Linked DNA regions of Homo sapiens: region 1 is linked to region 2. Evidence: fine-mapped expression QTL. A gene starts in region 2. The other region holds a variant in brackets. All regions are shown on one strand. Distances are between the middles of the regions. Region 1 overlaps LOC124901603 (a long non-coding RNA gene). Region 2 holds the start of CYCS (cytochrome c, somatic).

Region 1 (10,756 bases), 70 kb before region 2:
ATATCAAAGACATTTGAAATTGATATAATTTTTTAACATTTTATAATATTAATAAATAAACCAAACTACAAAAAATAAAAATAAAAAAAGGAATTTCCAGCATTCCCTATTCCCAAGACTCAACAAGAGCTGACTTGCTCAATCCAATGGCAAATACTCAATGCAATGGATTTATTAAGCACCTACAGACGTGTTTCCAGAGTTACTTACCTCATTGGCATTAACTGCAAAGATAAAACATCCAACCAATTGTTCTTTTGGTGGACATTTAAGTGCCTGTTAGGTACCAAGCACTAATCATAGGCATTTGAAACCCGAAATGAATAGAAAAACACAGTTCCTGCTTTCTAGGTACTCCTGGATAAACTCCATATAAACTGGCCTGCAGCCAGGAGTGGTGGCTCACACCTGTAATCCCAGTATTGTGGGAGGCCGAGGTGGGCGGATCACCTGAGGTCAGGAGCTTGAGACCAGCCTGGCTAACATGGTGAAACCCCATCTCTACTAAAAATACAAAAATTAGCGGGGCGTGATGGTGAGCGCCTGTAATCCCAGCTACTCAGGAGGCTGAGGCAGAAGAATCACTTGGACCCAGGAGGCAGAGTTGCAGTGAGCTGAGAACACATCACTGCACTGTAGTCTGGAAGACAGAGCAAGACTCCAACTCAAATAAATAAATAAATAAACAGACCTGCTCATGTCACAAGGGGGAAGACAAGAGAGAATATTTAACTTTCCAAAGACAGGAAAGGAAAATCAGGATAGCAGAGTGGACAAGAGCACAGCTTTGATGCCCAGACAAACCTGGACCATTTTTCTCACATGTCACATGGTAATAATATCTATCTCACAGGTGTGTTATAGAATTTAAAACTACATACACTTACACACATTTACAGACATATAATTGTATCACAGCACCAGGCACATAATATACATTAAATAAATTATCATTATTATTATGGTGTGTGAGTTATCTGTTTATTGGCTCTCAGGTCCAAATCAACTCTTCTTCACCCTGCTTTGTGAGACTCTGCAAACGTTTCTCCTGTCTTTTAAGCTTCACCAAAAGACAGCACTGGAGTGACCTTAAAAGGCAAAGATAACAGGAAGACACCTCAGTTTCAGGTTCTTGTCTTCTGATGTTTTTATTATTACTATTATTATTATTATTATTCAGCATGGGAGTCCAGTGGCCTCATGTTCAGTTCCAGCTCTGCCCTCAGGCCACTCCCTCCACCAGCAGCCACATCCACCAGCAATGGCAGGCCACATCTACAGACCAGTTCTGCTCAGCTCACACCCTCCAACAAGAGCGGACTACTTCTAGGGACTACCGCCGCCTGCACCCTGGCAAGTTTCTTCTCCATCTGAAGGCTTGGAAGCCATGCTGTCTTCCAAGAAGTTTGCATCTCAGCCTTCGTTGAGGCAGGGAGACCCTTCTGGTCCTAAGTTTCTTTATTGTTTACTCTACCTCAGCCTACAAGTTATAGCTTCTTAAAGTCCTCTTTGGTCCCTCTGAGTAGTTAAGCACTTTCCTCTAGTAAACAAGCTTTTACTTATTAAATTTGTCCCGTTCAAATAATGGGTGTGGTTTCTGTCTCCTTGCTGAACACAGACTGATACATAAGGTTTACCAAAGAGAATGAAACTTGGTATGAATGAATAGCAGGTGGAAAGGTATGCAGACAAGAAAAAGGCTGTCAGGAAATTGCAAGTAGGTAGTTCAATAGAACTGGAGAGTGGGCTGTGGGTGGGACAGGGCTGATGAAGACAGATCTGATTCTGAAGGAATTTTTTTAAGTTATGAATTCTGCTTTCATTCTGTAAACAGGGATCCATGGTGGATTTCAAGCAAGATTCATGACAGATTCGCATTTTAGAAAAATCTCCCTGGTGGCAGTGTAAGAATAACAGGATGAGTATAAAACTTAGAGGTAGGCAGAGCAGTAAAAGAATACTGACTGACATTTCTAGAACTCACGAACACCTCCAATTGCCTCTATTCCCAGGACACAGGAACATTACACTTCCCAGCTTGTTAATTTTATGCATGGCCCCCTAATTTCCTTTGGCTGCTGAATTATGAAGAAACTGATGTGAATTACTTATGAGTCAAAGCGGTTAAGAACCGATGCTTAATAACCCATGCTCCCTTCTTCTGCTGATACAAACCCTGAAGCCTCATATTGAGAAGACAGAGTTAGGAGACAGTGGACTCCCCACCAACCTGGGCCCTGAATGACACAATATGACAATACACAGCCCCTTGCTGTCTTGGTTTAAAGAGAACAAGGGGAGACAACCCACTGGGATTTTAGGCCACTTAGATTTGGGACTACATGTTCCTGCAGCATGAACTTGTCTATCCTGACTCCATGCAGAGACTTTCTTCTCTCTCTTTTCAGCCAGAATGATAGTTAAACATGGAGTTTGTGACATAGATGACAAACTCTTGGATGAATACACTGAAGTGTCCCTGAGGTTAATACAGAGTTCTGTGTCTCTCAGTCTGGAAACCAGTCTTGAAAGAGTAAACACCAACTGCCTGGCACTTCACAGCCTCGGTTCAACCATGGTTGTCATCATTTGCCATCACATCAATTCACACAAAGATCAAATACTGGTGATCCACAACAGCTTAAAATCATCCTTTATATGTATACATATACATATGTATGTTTTTTCTATACATTATTGTTATTAGGAGAAGAATTTTACAGACAGCTTTAACTTCAAGAGAGCAAAAAAATTATCCAAGCTGAGTATTGTCAAAAGAATTTCCCCCATAGCTCTCAAACACTGTCCTCAGATCACTGCTATTCAAATTGTGGTCTCTGTCCAGTAATAAATACAGATCCATGACAAGATAAGTAAAGAAATTGAGCTGACTTGGTGGCCGGGCACGGTAGCTCACACTTACAATCCCAGCACTTTGGGAGGCCGAGGCAGGGGGATCACTTGAGGCCAGGAGTTCAAAACCAGCCTGGTCAACATGGGGAAACCCTGTCTCTACTAAAAATACAAAAATTAGCCAGGTGTGGTGGCTCAGGAGGCTGAGGCAGGAGAATCACTTGAACCCGGGAGAAGGAGGTTACAGTGATGCAGTGAGCAGAGGTCATGCCATTACACTCCAGCCTAGGCGACAAGCGCAAAACTCTGTCACCAAAAAAAAAATAAAAAACTATTGGCCATCATCTCTTCAAACTGTTTATGTTGTCCCACAGCTTTGGTGCCCTATTTTTTTGTTTTGTTTTGTTTTCACTCTTTTCTTTGTGTCTCAGTTTAGGTTATTTGTTTATTTATTGTTTTGAGACAGGGTCTCACTCGGTCACAGTTTAGGTAATTTCAATCAACTTTCACGTTCACTGCTTTGTTCTTCAGTTGTGTTTGACAGAGCAGGAGCACCATCATCTCAGACAAACACCGTCACTTTAAATCCCAGCTCCCTTTCTAGCCTCATGCATTTCAAGGAAATCATTTCTCTTCTAACTACAATCAGCCAGAAAGAGCAAACAGTAAAACACAGATAACACAGCCCCGGCACAGAGGAAAGTAGGGGAAAGTCTCTTGGGTAACTGCCAAACTTCACTCTCATACAATAGGCCCAGTAAAACAGTGGGCCTTAATAAGCACATTCCTTTCCCTTCGGGTGCACTAAGATAGGGAAGCTAAATGCAAACTCAGGGGGTATGCCTGCAGCTGCAAAAAAAAAAAAAAAAAAAAAAAAGTGTGGAAACAAACACACAACTCTCCCTCCCAAATAAACACAACAAAAAAACACAAAAGTGTCCAAGCCTCCAACAAACTCTCTTACCCTAAATCCTTAAACACTCTTAGTCTGTAAAAAAATGTGCCTCTACCCTAACTCAGCCAAAAGCCCCTCTCAGGTTCGTTTTCTCTAAAATAAACCTGTCCTTAACTGCCAAGCCACCTTTTGTGTTTCTTTCCTCTTTCTTTAATTCTTACAGGGTTGAGTCTACTGATAGTCCTGTCAAATGCATACTTCATCTCTGCTACCATCACTTTTTTTTCTTCTGGCATTCCCATTAGACTCTTCCTTACAGCTTCCATCTCTCTGTTGACATTCCCCATCTAGTCATGCATGTGGTCCACCTGAGTCTGTTTCTGTTGATTGATTTTTCCCCTGACAGTGGGTTGTTTTCAGTTGCTCTTGTGTGTCCTGTGATCTTTGATTGAATGTTTGACATGTGTAAGACAGTAGAGACTGAAGCAAGAAGTATTTATGCCCGGAAATGGGCATGCCTTTCCTTCTACTACCTGCTGGTATGAGGGGTTGAGTTGATCTAGTGATGAGTTCAACTGGGTCTGGGTTTTGCTGTTGCCATTTTAGTTCAATGCACCACTGGCTTCAAATCCCCCTAGTGCTACTGCGTCCCTGGGTAAGGGCTGGGCTCACAATATTCATGCTCCACCCTCAGATTTACACCTTCCCCGTGTGCCCATCCACATTTTTTGGCTGTCCCTTGCTGTAGACTGCTATTACTTGTTACTTGGTGCTTGTTGACCTGGTGTGGGGTCAGGGCCACTGTCTGTCGTTTTGTTCCAGACTCAGTGTGAGGCAGGCCCAGTGTTCCAGGGCCCAGAGAATGAGGCTTTTTTATCCATCCTTTCTTCCCCAGGACAAGGGGCACTCTAATGGACTGGGACAATTTCCTGCCTGCAATTGCCATGAGCATTTTTCTTTTCCTTCCCAATATGAACTCCAAATATCTGAGACAGGTCTCAGTTAATTTAGAAAGTTTATTTTGCCAAGGTTGCAGACAAGCACCCATGACACAGCCTCAGGAGGTTCTGATGACAGGTGCCCAAGGTGGTAGGGACACCCCTTGGTTTTACACATTTTAGGGAGACTTGAGACATCAGTCAATATGTGTAAGAGGTACATTGGTTCAGTCTGGAAAGGTGGGTCAATTCAAGGTGAAGATGGGACAACTCGAAGCAGGGAGGGGCCTTCCAGGTCATAGGTATATAAGAGACAAATGGTTGCATTCTTTTGAGTTTATGGTTAGCCTCTCCAAAGAAGGCAATCAGATATGCATTCATGTCAGTGAGCAGAGGGGTGACTTTGAACAGAATGGGAGGCAGGTTTGCCCTAAGCAGTTCCCAGCTTGACTTTTCCTTTTAGCTTAGTGATTCTGGGGCACCAAGATTTATTTTCCTTTCACACCACCAACCTCAGTGGGATTTTCCTGCAGCCTGAGGTCAGCAGGGTTTTCTGCCCTTTCCCCAAAAGGTATGGCTTTTGTTTGTTCCGGAAGAAGAGTCTGGAAGAGCTTTGTGCATTTCCTGCAGTGGCAGCTGCTCCCCTGCCCCAAGCTGGCACTGTTGTGGGAGGCTCTATCTGGTCTCCCACTCTGTGCCCAATACATTCATGTGTGAGTGGGGCTCAGTGGCCTTCTATAGAGAAGCACCTGCAAGAGAGTGTGAACTCTGCTTGTCCAAAGATCCCAGGAGGTCCACACTTTCATGCTGACTCAAACACAGCCTTCAGTGATTCTTTAAAGGCATCGACTGAGCCAGTCTTCCCCACCTGTGTGGCAGGGCTGTCTCCTTCTCACGCTTGGCCACAGACAGCCATGTTCACACCTCCTCTTCTCAGAGGCTCCTGCCTTCCTTCAACCTCAGGCTGAATGTTTGCCCTGTGACTTCAGCTTCTGATGGGTTCAGGGAAAGGTATGATCTTGTAGATTATCTGTTGTTTTACTGTTA[C/T]CAGAGGAGTGAGACCCATTCTGATTTTCTACTTCCTAGTCGGCAACTGGAAGCCAGAGCAATGTTTGCAAACATCAGTCAGATCACCTCCTCATTGCTGAAAACCATGCTGAACACAGTCAGAATGAAATCTCCATTTGGTGCGGGGGGCTTTCAAGCTCCACACGGCCTGGCCCTGGTGTCCTCTCAACCTCAGCCCTCCTGACTCTCCAGGACCCACTGTCCCAGGCCATATGAAGCTCATTCTCAGAGAAGTCCTCCACTTCTCATTCCTGCCCTGAGGGCTTTGCCTGGCTTTTCCCTCTGCCAGGAATGCTATTTCCTCCATTCTCACTCAGGTCAGAGGGAATGTTCCTTATCCTGCAATCCTCAGTTCAAAGTTTACCCTCTCTGAGAGCCCTCCCCTCTTTCCAAGGTTTCCCCCTCCCAGATCCCATAAAAGTTCAAACATCTTACCATATTACATATGATTTTGGAAGCTTCTCAAAATTTATTTTTGGAATAAAGGAGATGGATGAAGATGAGATTTCTCCCAGCCATATTTATTTGGTCCTCAATATTTTGCTCAAATTACCCAGGTTGGTAGTTCTCAACCTTAGCTGAGACAACGGCATCCACCTGCCAAGGGTGAAGGCCCACGATAGGCTGTTCTGGGCACCTGGAGGCAGAAGGGGTCAGGGACCAGACGTCTTTATAGGTTCAGCCTCCTGGGATCATTCAGGGACCACAAAGATATCCAGTTTTCTGTAGGAAGCAAGACATCTGGTGACTGCTCTATTCTACTTCAATCCTCACTCACTCTCACCAGTGAAGCTGCCTTAGGAACAACACCAGCCAAGCAAAGAGGGTGTTTGGTTTGGGGAAAAAATGATCTATTGACTCCAAAGCAGCCTCTGTGCTAGTGGAGACCCCATCTCAAGAGGAGGGATGGCAGACTCCACAATTCCCAGCTGTCAATACAGGAGGGGGCTTCGTTTTCCTGGGTCACTGAAAAAGAACAAGAGAACTCTGGGGCCTTGGTCCTGGAGAAGACCCAGGGGGACCATCCCTCCCAGAAACACTCTGGAAAAAGGTTGTGGAGTTGTTTTTATCTGTAAATGTCCATATCTGATAGTTCAGGATTTCTTGCTTTTTAGGGTTTCACTAAAGTTTTAGGTTACTAAGAATAAAAATTCCAGTTAACACATACTTCTGTATACAAAATATGCTAGAAAGGGTTATGTTATTAGTGAAAAAAAGAATAATTTTGTCTAATTCAGAAGTTATCTGAAAGTTAGCTTAAATTACAGATTTGAAAAGGTTATTTATGAAACAATGTAGTAAGGAATAATTAAGTAGGGGAGAAAGATGAAAAAAATTTAAATAATAAAATATTCTTTAAAACCTGATAGAGAAATGGAGACATTTGGCTAATTAACATTTTCATTGTTAAAGCCAAGTCTTGATTAAAGTAAAATAAGAAGTATTGTAAAGAAATGAATCAGCAGTTTGGCAATTCTTTTTTAAATATAGTTAAGTATGAAGCTGGGTTTAGTGTGGAGCCAAATTTCACATACATGCTTGCATTGCTTCACTCTGTTTACTGTTTTGCTTGGATAGTGCTAGAGTACTTACTGGTCATGTGCCTAAAGTGAATTTCTTAATTGCACAGAATTTATAATAATATTGATGAACTTAAGGATATTAAATTGTGTATCAGGAATAAAATATGTAATATGTGGGTTTTGGGGATCAGTAACACTGTAGCCTCCAAGGTATATTGAGTAGGAAAATTTAGGGTTGGTCTCCTGTTTTTTGTTTCTGCTTCTAGTTTTCATTCATTTGCTGTTTATTCTCCTCTAGCTTTGTGTGTATGTATATGTGTATGCATATATATAAAACCATGATTTTTTTTTTTTAGTTCCTAGTGGAAGGCTTTTACTTGGTTCTGTGAATACTTATTTTGTTTCCTATGCATTTCTAGCAAATCATTATTTGTTCCATTTATCTGGAATTTCTACACTGCCTTTGTTGGGCCACAGGAGTTAATGGAGCACACCAGCTTTCTATCCAAAACTAGTTTTTTGGATTCTAGGCTCCCTGATACTTTAAGTGTGTTGAGTATACTCTAATAAATAGAATTTGAGTCACATTTCTCTCTCTCTCTGCCTAATTTCTCCAAAATTTGTAAACTATTTGTGAATATTCCTAATTCATGGCAATGTGTTTGTTTGCATACAGTCAAGCGGGGTCAACTAGGGCCGGTCAGGGAGAGAGAACCCAGAAACGTGGCAAGCTGGCAAAAGGGTAAGAATTTCTTACCAGCCAGTCACTGGCCTCTTTCTCTCTGTACAAACTGGTTAAATAAATAGTAAAAGTCACTGTTTATCTCCTCTGTAAAGTTTTAATTGATACAAAAGAGCTTTAATTAATTGGTTTAATAATAATAAGAGCTTAAATCAAATATTTTGTCAAAAAAGTGAAAAATGTAATGCCTTTTATTTAGTTCATGTGACTTGTGTAATCTTTGGGAAATAAAGACAGTCTTAAAGATTATTGGTAAAATACAAATGTCTTCAAAATGTAAACATGTGGCCTAAGTTATGCTCAAATTTCAGGTTTGCTAAATGCTTTAAGGTCATAAACTGCTCCTTTAGCTTTTGAAAGTTGTTTAACTTGTCTGCTTTCCACCAGGTAAGGCCTGAGGACATGTGGAGGTGGCCGCACCCCTGGCTAATGCTGGAAATAGTCAAACCTTATCAGAACATAACTTACCAGGTTTTACATTAAAATTAAAATTGCTGAGAGTCACCATTATAACATGTAATTAAGACTACTAGAAACAGTTTTACATGCAAGGTGTGTAAGAACAGAAGAATTTTTTTTTGTAAAAGATTATAAAAGGTTTTCGCTTCTTTAAAATTTCTGAGTTATCATTTTGGCAAAATAAATAGTTTATGGTAATCTGGAATTCCAAAATCAAACTTCAGTTTTAAAATTTTCTTTCCTGATGCCTAGCTTTTTGAATTGATCAGAGGGCCCTTGAAAACATCTGGAAAAGAAGTAAACGAGATTATTTGACATGTTTAGGTATATGGGATTGCCAAAATGATGTTCAATCTTCTTTAGGTTATGTTTTTGTAAATAATACTAATATATATTCCAAAATTGTATGGGATTTCTAAAATTCTAATGTGTAAGTATATGCTATCAATTATAATTATGGTTATTATGTTAAGTTACTGTAAACCACAGAAATAACCAAATTTCCTTGTATAAAGCTACTAACCCAAGTAGAACAAAAAAAAATTAAATGCCAAGAAAAGTCAGATTCTCATGTTAAACCAGCTGATACTGAAATTGTTTAGATATACAATTTGAATAAACTTCACAGTCTAAGTCAAATTACCTTTGATAACTCATCAGTTGTCAGTGCTATGCACCTAATTTAGAAAAACTACTGGTATTCGAGAGGATATACATCTAATGTTAATAAGCATGGACTCATGGAGAACCAGGATGACCACCTTGTCCTTCTTGAGTCCTTAAAGTTTTTATTATTAAAAGTTCTGCATTCCATGACTCATCATGGAAAAGATAAAATAATCCAAAGTGAATACATTCATGTAGTAACTTACAAATTACTAAAATAGTTTATAACCAATGTTTGGCTCTATATTCATGGGAAAACAATTAAAGCTTCAGGTACATTTGGTCACCTGGTGGGCCATTTGAACATTTCGTAAAGGGATTTCACGCAACTGTTATTTTCAGTGCATGTTTTCTGATTGTATAAAAGCTTTCCTGGCCAGGCACGGTGGCTCATGCCTGTAATCCCAGCACTTTGGGAGGCTGAGGCAGGTGGATCGCCTGAGGTCAGGAGTTCGAGACCAGCCTGGCCAAAATGGCGAAATACTGCCTCTACTAAAAATACAAAAAGTTAGCCAGCCATAGTGGCGGGTGCCTGTAATCCCAGCTACTCAGAAGGATGAGGCAGGAGAATCACTTGAACCTAGGAGGCAGAGGTTGCAGTGAGCCGAGATCGTACCATTGCACTCCAGCCTGGGTGACACAGCAAGACTCTGTTTCCAAAAAAAGAAAAAAAAAGCTTTCCCATGCCAGAGGGCTGATGTTATCACAGCAGATTATTATGCTACAGTGTAGTTTCACCAGGTAAAGAAAACTTTTTATGGTTTGGATCTTCTGAGAACGTCAAAGAAAAACTGTCCTTGCCATCCACACTATTACAAAATTTCAGGACCTTGAACTTTGGGTTCATAATCTCACAACTGAGAAAGGTCCCTCATCACTCTTGGAACTCTACACCCATTGAAATCCTTAAGGTAAAACTAGCCAGGAAAGTTTCTCCCCAGAAGAAGATGGCATCTTGATGTGAACAGCTTTTTCCATGTTCACAGATTAAGACTTCTATTATCATGAAACTCTAATCTTTGAATATTTTTTCCTGCTTATGCTTCTATAAACAATAGAAGTGGTTAGGGGGTCAGTCTGTTATGTGCACTTGTGGGGTATACTTTTATTTGTGAAGAAGTTTACAGCCAGCCTTATACATGGATAAACTTATACTTTGATAGATAAAAGATGAAGACCCAATGTAGGTACAAAACTTTAATGGTACATACATTGCCTCGTAATCAGTTATGAACAAAACATTGGTTCATTCCTTTTAACCCACATCATGGGTTAAAAAGTACACTGCCAGGAGGTCTTCACTCTTCTAGAAGGGCATCATTTGTCAGGCCCTTTTTCCATGGTTTAAAGTAAAAAAAGCAATGATTAGAAATGTATCCCTCGTGATAGACTCTGTAGCAAATTATAAAGGTAAGGACACAGAAACTTTAAATTCTCTTGTGTAAGTTATGATAGAATTGGCAGAACAAGAAGTATCTGTGCCACTGCTGGCACTTGTGGCCTATGGAAAAATACATCAGGTGAAAATTATAGAAATTCAGTGGTAGGGGATTAACAAAGAGACTACTTGTTAAGTGAGTAGACTCTTTATCTAGCTCATTCTTTGCTCTAT
Region 2 (10,756 bases):
GCCGGGCATGGTGGCACACACCTGTAATCCCAGCTACTTGAGAGGCTGAGGCAGGAGAATCTCTTGAACCTGGGAGGCAGAGGTTGCAGTGAGCCGAGATCGCGCAATTGTACTACAGCTTGGGCAACAAGAGCGAAACTCCGTCTCAAAAAAAAAAAAAAAAAGAAGTGATAACCAGCCACTGTCCCCAGCTTGCTTTTCTTTTTTCTTTTCTTTCTTTTTTGTTTTTTTGAGATGCGGAGTCTTTCTCTGTCGCCCAGGTTGGAGCGCAGTGCAGTGGCATGATCTCAGCTCACTGCAACCTCCACCTCCCAGGTTCAAGTGATTCTCCTGCCTCAGCCTCCCAAGTAGCTGGGATTACAGGCATGCACCACCACACTGGGCTAATTTTTTGTATTTTTAGTAGAGACGGGGTTTCACCATGTTGGCCAGGCTGGTCTCATACTCCTGACATCAAGTGATCCACCCGCCTCGGCCTCCCAAAGTGTTGGGATTACAGGCATGAGCCACCACACCCAGCCACCAACTATCCTTGAAAAACCCTAGCTTCCGTATTCTTAGGGAGGCAGATTTGAAAATTATCTCCCATCCTTCTGCTTGGCTGGCCCTCTGATAATTAAACTCTTTCTCTGCTCCAAAAACTGTTGCTCTCAATGCATTGGCTTTTCTAGGCAGCAGGCAAGAAGAACCCATTGGGCTGTTACAGCACTTCCAGAGGTAGTCTAATAACTCCTCTCCAAAAAGTCATTTTGGTGGAGAGGTGGAGCAAGATGGCCAAATGGAAGCCTCCAGGAATTGCCCCCGACATAGGAACAACAAATTGAACAACTATCCACCCAAAAAAGAACCTTCATAAGAACCAAAAATCATGTGAGCAATCACAGTACCTGGTTTTAACATCATATTAAGGAAAGAGGCACTGAAGAGGGTAAAAAAGGCAGTCTTGGATTGCCTACACCACCCCTTCCACATCCCCCAGCAGTGGCCACATGGCATAGAGAATCAGTGTGCTTGCGGAAGGGACAGGGCAGTGATTGCAGGGCCTTGCATTGGAACTCAGTGCTGCCCTGTCACAGTGAAAAACAACACTGGGCAGAAATCAGCCAGTGCCCAGAGGGAGCATGTAGATGAGCCCTAGCTAGAGAGGAGTCATTCATCCAAGCAGCCAGAACCTGAGTTCTAGCAGGCCCAGCTACCGTGGGCTAAAGTGCTCTGGGGGGGTCCCAAATAAACTTGAAAGGCAGAATAGGCCAAAAGAACTACAATTCTTGGGCAAGTTCTGTTGCTGGGCTTGGAGCCATTGGGCTTAGAATGTACATGACCTAGTGAGATGCTAGCCAGGGAGGCCAAGGGAATGCTTGCATCACCCTTCTCCAAGCCACAGGCACTGCTGCTGACAGTACTGGGAGAGACTCCTTCCCACCACTTGAGGAGAAGAGAGGGGAGAGTAAAGAAGACATTGTCTTACAACTTGAATACCAGCTCAGCCACGGTAGAACTGTGCACTAGGGGGAGGCCCCCATTTCATGCCCTAGCCCCCACATGAAATTTCTAGAGACACCCTGGGCCAGAACGGAACCTGTTGCCTTAAAGGGAAGAGCCCAGGCCTGGCAAGATTCATCACTTGCTGACTAAAGAGACTTTGGGCTTGAATAATCAGTAGTAGTAGCCAGCCATGCTGGCTTCAGGTGTGGTGGCTTCAGGGGAGAGACTCCTATTTGAGGAAAGGAGAGGGAAAAGTAAGGAGACTTTGTCTTGCGACTTGGATACCAGCTCAGCTACTGGGGAGTAGGGCACCAAGCAGGCTCCTGGAGTCCCTGATTCCATGCCTTGGCTCCTAGACAGCATTTCTGGACATGCCCTGGGCCAAAGAGGACCCCACTGCCCTGAAAGGAGAAACTCGGGACTAATAGCATTTATCACAAGCTGACTGAAGAGCCCCTGTGCCTTGAGTGAATGTTGGCATAGCCAGGAAGTACTAGCCATGGGCTAGTGCAATGGTGGTCATGGGGAAGGACTTTGATGCTTGAGGAAAGAGGAGGGAAGAGTGAGAATAACTTTATCTTGTGGTTTGGGTGCCAGGTCAGCCACAGTGGAATAGAGTACCAGGTAGATTCCTAAGGTTCCCGACCCCAAGCCCTGGCTTCCAGACAGCATCTCTGGACCTACTTGAAGATGGAGAGAACTTGTTGCCCTGATAGGAAGGACACAAGGCTGGCTGAATTCACCAGCTTCTGAATGCAGGCCTTGAGGAAACATAAGCTACTGTAGCTAGACAGTGGTCACTGCAAGCCTTGGACCAGACCCAGTGCTATGTTGGCATCAGGTCTCTCCTAGCACAGTCACAGTGGAGGCAGCCACAAGGGTGCTTGTGTCACCTCTCCCCTAGCTCCAGACAGCTCAGTGCAGAGACTCCATTTGTTTGGGTGAAAGTAAGATAAGAGAACAGAGTCTCTGCCTGGTAATCCAGGTAATTCTCCTGGATCTTACCCAAGACCACAAATGTCATACCCCTACAAGTCTGCAAAAGCTATAGTTTTACTGAGCTTCGGATGGCCCCTAATGCAGATATAGCTGCAGTGACCAAAGACTTAGATCACAACACCCAAGTCCCTTCAAATACTTGGAAAGCCATCCCAAGAAGGGTGGATACAAAAAAATAAAAAGCCCAGACTGTGAAGACAATAATAAATACCTAACTCTTCAGTGCCCAGACACCAACAAAAATCCACAAGCATCAAGACCACCCTGGTAAACACGACCTCACCAAACAAACTAATGAAGGCACAAGTGACCAATTCCAGAGAGAAAGAGATATGTGACTTTTCAAACAGAGAATTCAAAATAGCTGTGTTGAGGAAGCTCAACAAAATTCAAGATAACACAGAGAAGAAATTCAGAATTCTACAAGATAAATTTAACAGAGATTAAAACAATTAAAAAGAATCTAGCAGAAATTCTGAAGCTGAAAAATCCAATTAACGTACTAAAAAATGCAGTCCCTTACAGGCAGAATTGATCAAACAGAAGGAAGAATTAGTGAGCTTGAAGATGGGCTATTTGAAAATACACACTCAGAAGAGACAAAAGAAAAAAGAATAAAAATGAATGAGGTACACCTATAAGATCTAGAAACTGGCTTCAAAGGGCAAATCTAAGAGTTACTGGCCATAAAGAGGAGCTAGAGAGAGAGATCAGGGTAGAAAGTTTATTCAGCGAGATAATGACAGAGAACTTCCCAAACCTAGAGAAAGATATCAATATTCAAGTACAAGAAGGTTATAAAACACCAAGCAGATTTAACCCAACGAAGACACCCCAAAACATTTAATAATCAAACTCCCAAAGATCCAGGATAAAGAAAGAATCCTAAAAGCAAGCAAGAGAAAAGAAACAAATAACATAAAAAGGAGTTCTAATAAGTCTGGCAGCAAACTTATCAGTGGAACTTTACAGGCCGGGAGGGAGTGGCATTACATATTTAAAGTGCTGAGGGAAAAAACTTTTATCCTAGAATAGTACATCCAGTGAAAATATCCTTCAGATGTGAGGGAGAAATAAAGACTTTCCCAGGCAAACAGAAGCTGAGGGATTTCATCAACACCAGACCTGTCCTACAAGAAATGCTAAAGGGAGTTCCTCAGTCTGAAAGAAAAGGACATTCGTAAGCAATAAGAAACCACCTGAAGGTACAAAACTCACTACTAATAGTAAGTACACAGAAAAACACACAATATTATAATACTGTAATTGTGTGTAAACTGTTCATATCTTGAGTAGAAAGACTTAGAGATTAACCTAACTTATCAAAAATAATAGCTATAACAACTTTTCAAGACATAGTATAATAATATATAAATAGAAACAAGAAAAAGTTTTAAAAGTGGGGAGAGTGAAGTTAAAGTGCAGAGTTTTTCTTAGTTTTCTCTTTGATTTTTGTTTATGCAATCAATGTTATGTTGTCATCAGTTTAAAACAATGGGTTATAAAATATTATTTGCCCTGGGCGTGGTGGCTCACACCTGTAATCCCAGCACTTTGGGAGGCCGATGCGGGTGAATCACCTGAGGTCAGGAGTTCGAGACCAGCCTGACCAAATAGTGAAACCCCATCTCTACTAAAAATACAAAAATTAGCTGGGCGTGGTGGTTTGCTCCCGTAGTCCCAGCTACTTGGGGGGCTGAGACATTAAATGGCGCCACTGAAGAAGAATGAATAAGGTCTAGTAATACAACAGGGTGACTACACTCAACAATAATTTATTGTACATTAAACAAACTAAAAGTATAATTGGATTGCTTGTAACAGAAAAAAAGGATAAATGCTTGAGGTGATGGATAGACCGTTTACCCTGATGTGATTATTATACATTGTATGCCTGTATCAAAATATCTCATGTACCTCTTAAGTATATATATATATTTACCTACTTCGTACTCATAAAAATTTTAAAAGGTACATAAATGTTATCATTGCATCCTCTTAATTTTATTTTTCAGTTCCAGAGGGATAATCCTGTCTCTGCCGCAAATGCAGCACCTTCCTCAGTCTTGGGGCGTCCATCAAGCGGAGAGCTGGAATGTGACTGAAAGTAACAGAGTATAGGTGGAACTAGAACAAGGTCACGAGCTGGTGCCCAACTCGTGTAACTCCTGGTTCCAGGCTGTCCCTCTAGGATGCTGTTGGCGCCAGCCGTGGTAGTAGGACAGAGTCTGGGTAAAGGTCGCCTGCTGACAAGATGGTAGCTAGGAGACCTCTAGGTGCGCCAAAATTAGGGCGTCTTTTCCTGGACCGGCAAAACGCCCTGCTCAAAGCTCATTACATCACCACGCCCAAGAACTGATACTTTAGCAGGGCAACGCACCAACCAAGCGACTCCGCCCCACCCTCCCCGCTCCTCCAGCACACGCAAGCGCACAGAGGCCCGCGAGTGACGTCACCTCTCCCGACACCACCTCGTTGTCGTACGACCAAAGGCCTGTCGTAACGGCCGGGAAAAGCCTCGAGAAGAAGGGCACGCACGCCGTACACCCTAACATGCTCGCCAGCATGCGCGCGCAGGTCCTTGGCGCAGGCATTGGGACTGGAGCCAATGAGGTGCGGCGACGTTACTGCGTAGCCGCCAGCTCGGCCGCACGTCAGGGCGCGGGAGCGCGGAGCGAGTTTGGTTGCACTTACACCGGTACTTAAGCGCGGACCGGCGTGTCCTTGGACTTAGAGAGTGGGGACGTCCGGCTTCGGAGCGGGAGTGTTCGTTGTGCCAGCGACTAAAAAGAGGTGAGAGCGGGTCGCGGAGGCCGCACCTGGTTAGAGGCAGAGCTGTGGGAGGCGCGCACTTGCGAGCGACCGAAACCCAAGCGGGGAGCATTCGAGTGGAGCCCGCGCTGGGTGGGAGGGCGGGGAGTGAAGACCCTGGACTGTGGTCAGACCGAGCTGGGCGAGTAACGGCTTGAGGTGCGGCGGAGCCCTAACTAGGGACAGGTATGGTCTCGGTCAGGGACTGGAGGCGGCTTGGATACAGATCCGAGGAGGAGGCGGCCTCTTCCGTAGTGGTTGCTGAAGGGCTATGGAAATGATAGGCAAGACTTCCCTCCTGGAAAGCCGAAGCTTAGAGCTTCACGTTCTTCTTCAGAGGGCAAAAGCTGTTGCTCTTCTAATAAGGGGCCAGTTCTTTTCGTGGGCACATGTTTCTTCCGTCAGTCGTTCTGACATCCTAGAAGGAGTTTCATCAATCACCTTGAAACCGACCTGGACGGGTGACCTCGTGGTCGCCCCAGGAGATCACAGGTAGGGGAGTTGGGATGTCCCCGGGGGACCGTGCAGCCTGCCCCTGAGCTCCCATTCACAAGTTCGAGTGTCAAGCTACTCCTGTGACCTGGGCAGATAGAAACAGCCAGGACCGCTTTTTAAACATTTGTGTGCTTTGCGTTATCCTCAGGGAGAGGTGGCTTTACATTGTAGTAAGATTAAATGGTTAGGTCTTTTTAAAAGTTGCGGTTGTGGTGATTTTGGCTTAATGTGTTCGCCCTTGAGCTTCAGATCTGTGACTTCGTGACCATGATTGTCTCTTCTGAAACTGGAGTTTGAATTAGGTTCCCTCTTTGCTTGGGCTTTAACGTTCCTTCACGTATACACACAAAAATACGTTTTTGAGGAGGTACTCCTAAAAATGTTTTTGGTATTAAAGAATATTTGGTATAAAGAGTATTAAAGCAAAACAAGATTCATTCTGGTATTTAATGACATAAATTAGCAATGGATTGGTAATTAAGTGGCTAGAGTGGTCATTCATTTACACTGTATTTGTTACCTGAGGAAAAATTTACTAAGTTGAAGCTTTCGTTTTTAGAATTAAATATGGGTGATGTTGAGAAAGGCAAGAAGATTTTTATTATGAAGTGTTCCCAGTGCCACACCGTTGAAAAGGGAGGCAAGCACAAGACTGGGCCAAATCTCCATGGTCTCTTTGGGCGGAAGACAGGTCAGGCCCCTGGATACTCTTACACAGCCGCCAATAAGAACAAAGGTAAGAGTCACTTGTTAAATAAAACAACACAAAATGCAGGAATATAACATGTGGCAAACTATCAGGAGTGTGAAATAACCGATGCATTCTTTCTTGTTTAGGCATCATCTGGGGAGAGGATACACTGATGGAGTATTTGGAGAATCCCAAGAAGTACATCCCTGGAACAAAAATGATCTTTGTCGGCATTAAGAAGAAGGAAGAAAGGGCAGACTTAATAGCTTATCTCAAAAAAGCTACTAATGAGTAATAATTGGCCACTGCCTTATTTATTACAAAACAGAAATGTCTCATGACTTTTTTATGTGTACCATCCTTTAATAGATCTCATACACCAGAATTCAGATCATGAATGACTGACAGAATATTTTGTTGGGCAGTCCTGATTTAAAACTAAGACTGGCTTGTGGTTAAATGAATATGTTCAGTTTTTGAATTTTAATAGTAACTCCAATTCAGTAAATGGTATCACTGTTTACCCCTTTTAAAGATATGATTAGACTTCGTTAGTAATGTTCAACTTTTCACAAAGATGGTGAGTGCCATCTTAAAACTTACTGGAGATTGGTTTTATATTTAGATTTATATAACTGGTTATGTGAATATATTTAAATACTGGGGAAATTGCTTCACTGTCTTAGAACCAAGCAAGATTCACCTGTGTTTTGTGTTCATGTTCATTTGCCTCTTAAAGGCAAGGGTTGAAGATAAATAAGGTAGCAATGTCTATAGTTTTGGCCTTAACTATGCCAATCTAATTATAATTCCCTGTATTTAAAATGGTTTCTTTTACTTATTGAAAGGCATTTTAGTGTGGTTTATGTGTAATATTAAAGATTATTCAACACCTCTCACATCTTACAGATCTATAAGGTCACATGCTTTTAAAATAGTAGCAAGTTAAACTTCACTCTTGAATTCTTTACAATCTAAGTCAAACTAAGTTATAATTTAGGATTGTCTTTAAACAGCCATTCAGAAACAAAACTGTAGAACTGTGTATTTGATTGGGAATGGTGCTTTTGCCAACTTAAAAGGATTAAAGTAACGGAGATATACACAAATTTTAAAATTATGTGTGATCACAAGACTAAAGATAATTAAAAAGAAAACCACAGATCATGACTTTTTGACTGTGCTTGATTTCATGACTGATGCACAAATTTTAATGATTAAAAAGTGCAGGAGCCCTAAATGTCAGTGCAGCAGCCCTAAATGTCAGTGCAGCAGTGTTAACCAGTCATGGTGCTAGATTGTTTACTTGGTTTTCTAGGACTGCCTCAACTAGAATAACACTTCACTAATTGACTCTTAGTTTCTTTGCTCAGATTGAGAACTGCAGCATTTATGCCAGACATGGACAGAGGAATGCCTGTGGTCATAGTTTTGTGATGTGTAACAGTGTATAATTACATACTGAATTATTTCATGCATAGTCTGTGCCATACACATTTAGAGTAGTCCTTGGAGATTTTATGGAGATGGTGAGCACAAGGTAAGTCATAAAGAATAATGAGAAAATAAATCTATGCTGGTGCAGCTGAGAACTGTATCTTTGTGGGACAGTGAGAAGACTGAGAAGATGTGAATCCATGGTCTCAAAGGTGATAGGGACGATTAGATAGGTGTTTTAAGGCCTGAAAGCAATTTATAACATATGAGTCTTATTTTTATTTATAGAAATGTGGAAAGCTTGCTGTAATTCATATTTGAAGTCCTAGTCTGAGTTCTGGTGGGGAATTTAAAAATGCATCCTGGAAATCCTTTAAAGATTTCAGACTTTGAAAGGCCTTGTAGCAGAGGACTTGGTGACTGTATAAAGTTAGTGGTATTCAGGGACAGTGTAGCAAGTAGCTTACAAGGGGACAATTCTGGACTAATGAGAAAGACCTGAAGTGAAGGCTAGAGAGTTGATTTTTTTTTTTTTTGGCATCCTGGAAATGATACAGGAAACATATTAAGATAGATACAGAAATGTGTTCAACCTTCCATCTTGGCTAGTTGTGGCGTTTAGTTTGTTTTTTGAGACATGGTCACGCTGTGTCGCCAAGGCTGGAGTGCAGTGGTGCGATCTCGGCTGGCTGCAACCTCTATTTCCCAGGCTCAAGCGATTCTCTCACTTCAGCTTCCCAAGTAGCTGGGACTACAGGTGTTCGCCACCATGCCCAGCTAATTTTTTTGTAGAGATGGAGTTTTGCCATGTGGTCCCAGGCTGGTCTCAAACTCCTGAGCTCAAGCAATCCGTCCACTTGCCTTGGCTCCCCAAAGTGCTGGGATTACAGGCGTGAGCCACCAGGCCCTGCCTGGTTTTCAAATTCAGAAATCTTATTATTTAACCCAGAAGTAATCAGCCCAGTAGTAACTTAGGTTTAATTTTTTTTCAGGTTTAAAATTTTTCTCATTTATTTTTTCTGAGACGGAGTTTCGCCCTTTTCGCCCAGGCTGAGTACAGTGGTGCAATCTCACTGCAACCTCCGCCTTCCAGTTGCAAGTGATTCTCCTGCCTCAGCCTCCTGAGTAGCTGGGATTACAGGCACCCGCCACCACGCCTGGCTAATTTTTGTATTTTTAGTGGAGATGGTGTTTCACCATGTTGGCCAGACTGGTCTTGGACTCCTGACCTCGTGATCCACCCACCTTGGCCTCCCAAAGTTCTAGGATTACAGGTGTGAGCCACCACGTCCGGCCAATTTTTCTCATTTCTATGCCTCCTATATTAAGGTCTGTGTTGGCACAGATGAGTAACTGCCATGTTCTAGGTCAGTTATACCCAAGCACTTCTGGTGGTTTAAAATGTGATTCTGTAACTTTTTTATTTTTATTTTTTTGAGATAATTTCACTCTTGTTGCCCAGGCTGGAGTGCAATGGCGTGATCGCTGCTCACCGCAACCTCCGCCTTCCAGGTTCAAGCGATTCTCCTGACTCAGCCTCTCAAGTAGCTGGGATTACAAGCATGCGCCACCATGCCCAGCTTATTTTGTGTTTTTAGTAGAGACAGGGTTTCTCCATGCTGGACAGGCTGGTCTTGAACTCCCGACGTCAGGTGATCTACCTGCCTCGGCCTCCCAAAGTGCTGGGATTACAGGCGTGAGCCACCACGCCTGGCCAATTATGTAATTTTTTAAAAAGGACATTTCTATCAGGGATATATACCTTCAGAAATAAGGAAATAGGGGAAAAAAAGAGCACTATAAACCACATGTTTTCATTTCTAGTGCTTCGCTGTAAGTGGCTAGGTTGGTAGAATCAAAAACAAGGGCCAGATGTATTTAAGGGGTATTCAGATGCCACCTACATGCTTATTTTGTCTAGAACAGTGCTGTCTAATAGAACTTTCTGTGACGATGGATATTTTGTAGACTTTTGCTGTCCAGTGTGGTAGCCACTAACCACATGTGGCTGTTAAGCCCTTGAAATATAGCTAGTGTGACTAGAAAGTATTTTATTTTAAATTTACATAGGCACAAGTGGCTAGTGGCTACTGTATTGACATTCTGGGTCTAGGACTAGAACCAGTGGTCTGTAACAAAAGTACTTTCTCTTTACTCTATTAAATCTAGAATTAGCCGGGCATGGTCGCTCATGCCTGTAATCCCAGCACTTTGGGAGGCCAAGGCAGGCAGATCACTTGAGGTCAGGCGTTTGAGACCAGCCTGGTCAACATGGCGAAACCCTGTCTCTACAAAAAACATAAAAATTAGCCAGGTGTGGTGGTGGGCACCTGTAATCTCAGCTACTTGGGAGGCTGAGGCACAAGAATCACTTGAACTTGGGAGGTGGAGGTTGCAGTGAGCCAAGATTGTGCCACTGCACTCAAGCCTGGGTGACGAGTGAAACTGTCTCCAAAAAAAAAAAAAAATCTAGAATTCTTGGAAGTACATTATATTGCCCTTCAGAATAGATTCCAGTTCCTGTTGTGCTCACCTTTATAATTTTACCATAAGTTTTACCTATTCGTAAGTTGGCAGTTTTAGATAGATAACATTCTGGTGGTAGCTAGGGATTTACCTTTTGTCATCCTTTTCCTGCACTTCTCTTGAATTCCTTTATAGATGTACAGTTTTGCTTTAACCACTGAAGATTGCTGTAAATTATAAAGGGTGTGATAGAATCCACATGGCTGTCAAGAAGGAGATCTTACCAAGGACAGTTGACTGACTAGTCTCAGATTGTTTCATATCATTTATACTTGGGTAAGAGTAAACTAGATAACTGGGCGTCGTGGTGCA

Evidence for each region. PIP is the estimated chance that this variant, and not a neighbour inherited with it, causes the effect.
Region 1: its variant is fine-mapped to the expression of CYCS in whole blood (TOPMed, PIP 0.99).

What each region holds. Positions count from the first base shown.
Region 1 is chr7:25,189,483-25,200,238 of GRCh38, reverse strand. All of the region lies in intron 1 of LOC124901603 (a long non-coding RNA gene), which reads right to left. LOC105375191 (a long non-coding RNA gene) reads right to left here. Exons shown (of 3, transcript XR_927102.3): 3 at 6,260-6,477. Among named protein-coding and RNA genes, the nearest start is that of SPMIP4, 15 kb to the right of the region's middle. The variant C/T (reference allele first, on the strand shown) is at 5,734.
Region 2 is chr7:25,119,721-25,130,476 of GRCh38, reverse strand. CYCS (cytochrome c, somatic) reads left to right here and starts at 5,217. Exons shown (of 3, transcript NM_018947.6): 1 at 5,217-5,277; 2 at 6,350-6,526; 3 at 6,628-10,756. The coding sequence starts at 6,358. The coding sequence ends at 6,776. It also overlaps a transcript of SPMIP4 not described here. RefSeq lists enhancers at 4,807-5,056, 5,204-5,747, 5,748-6,292.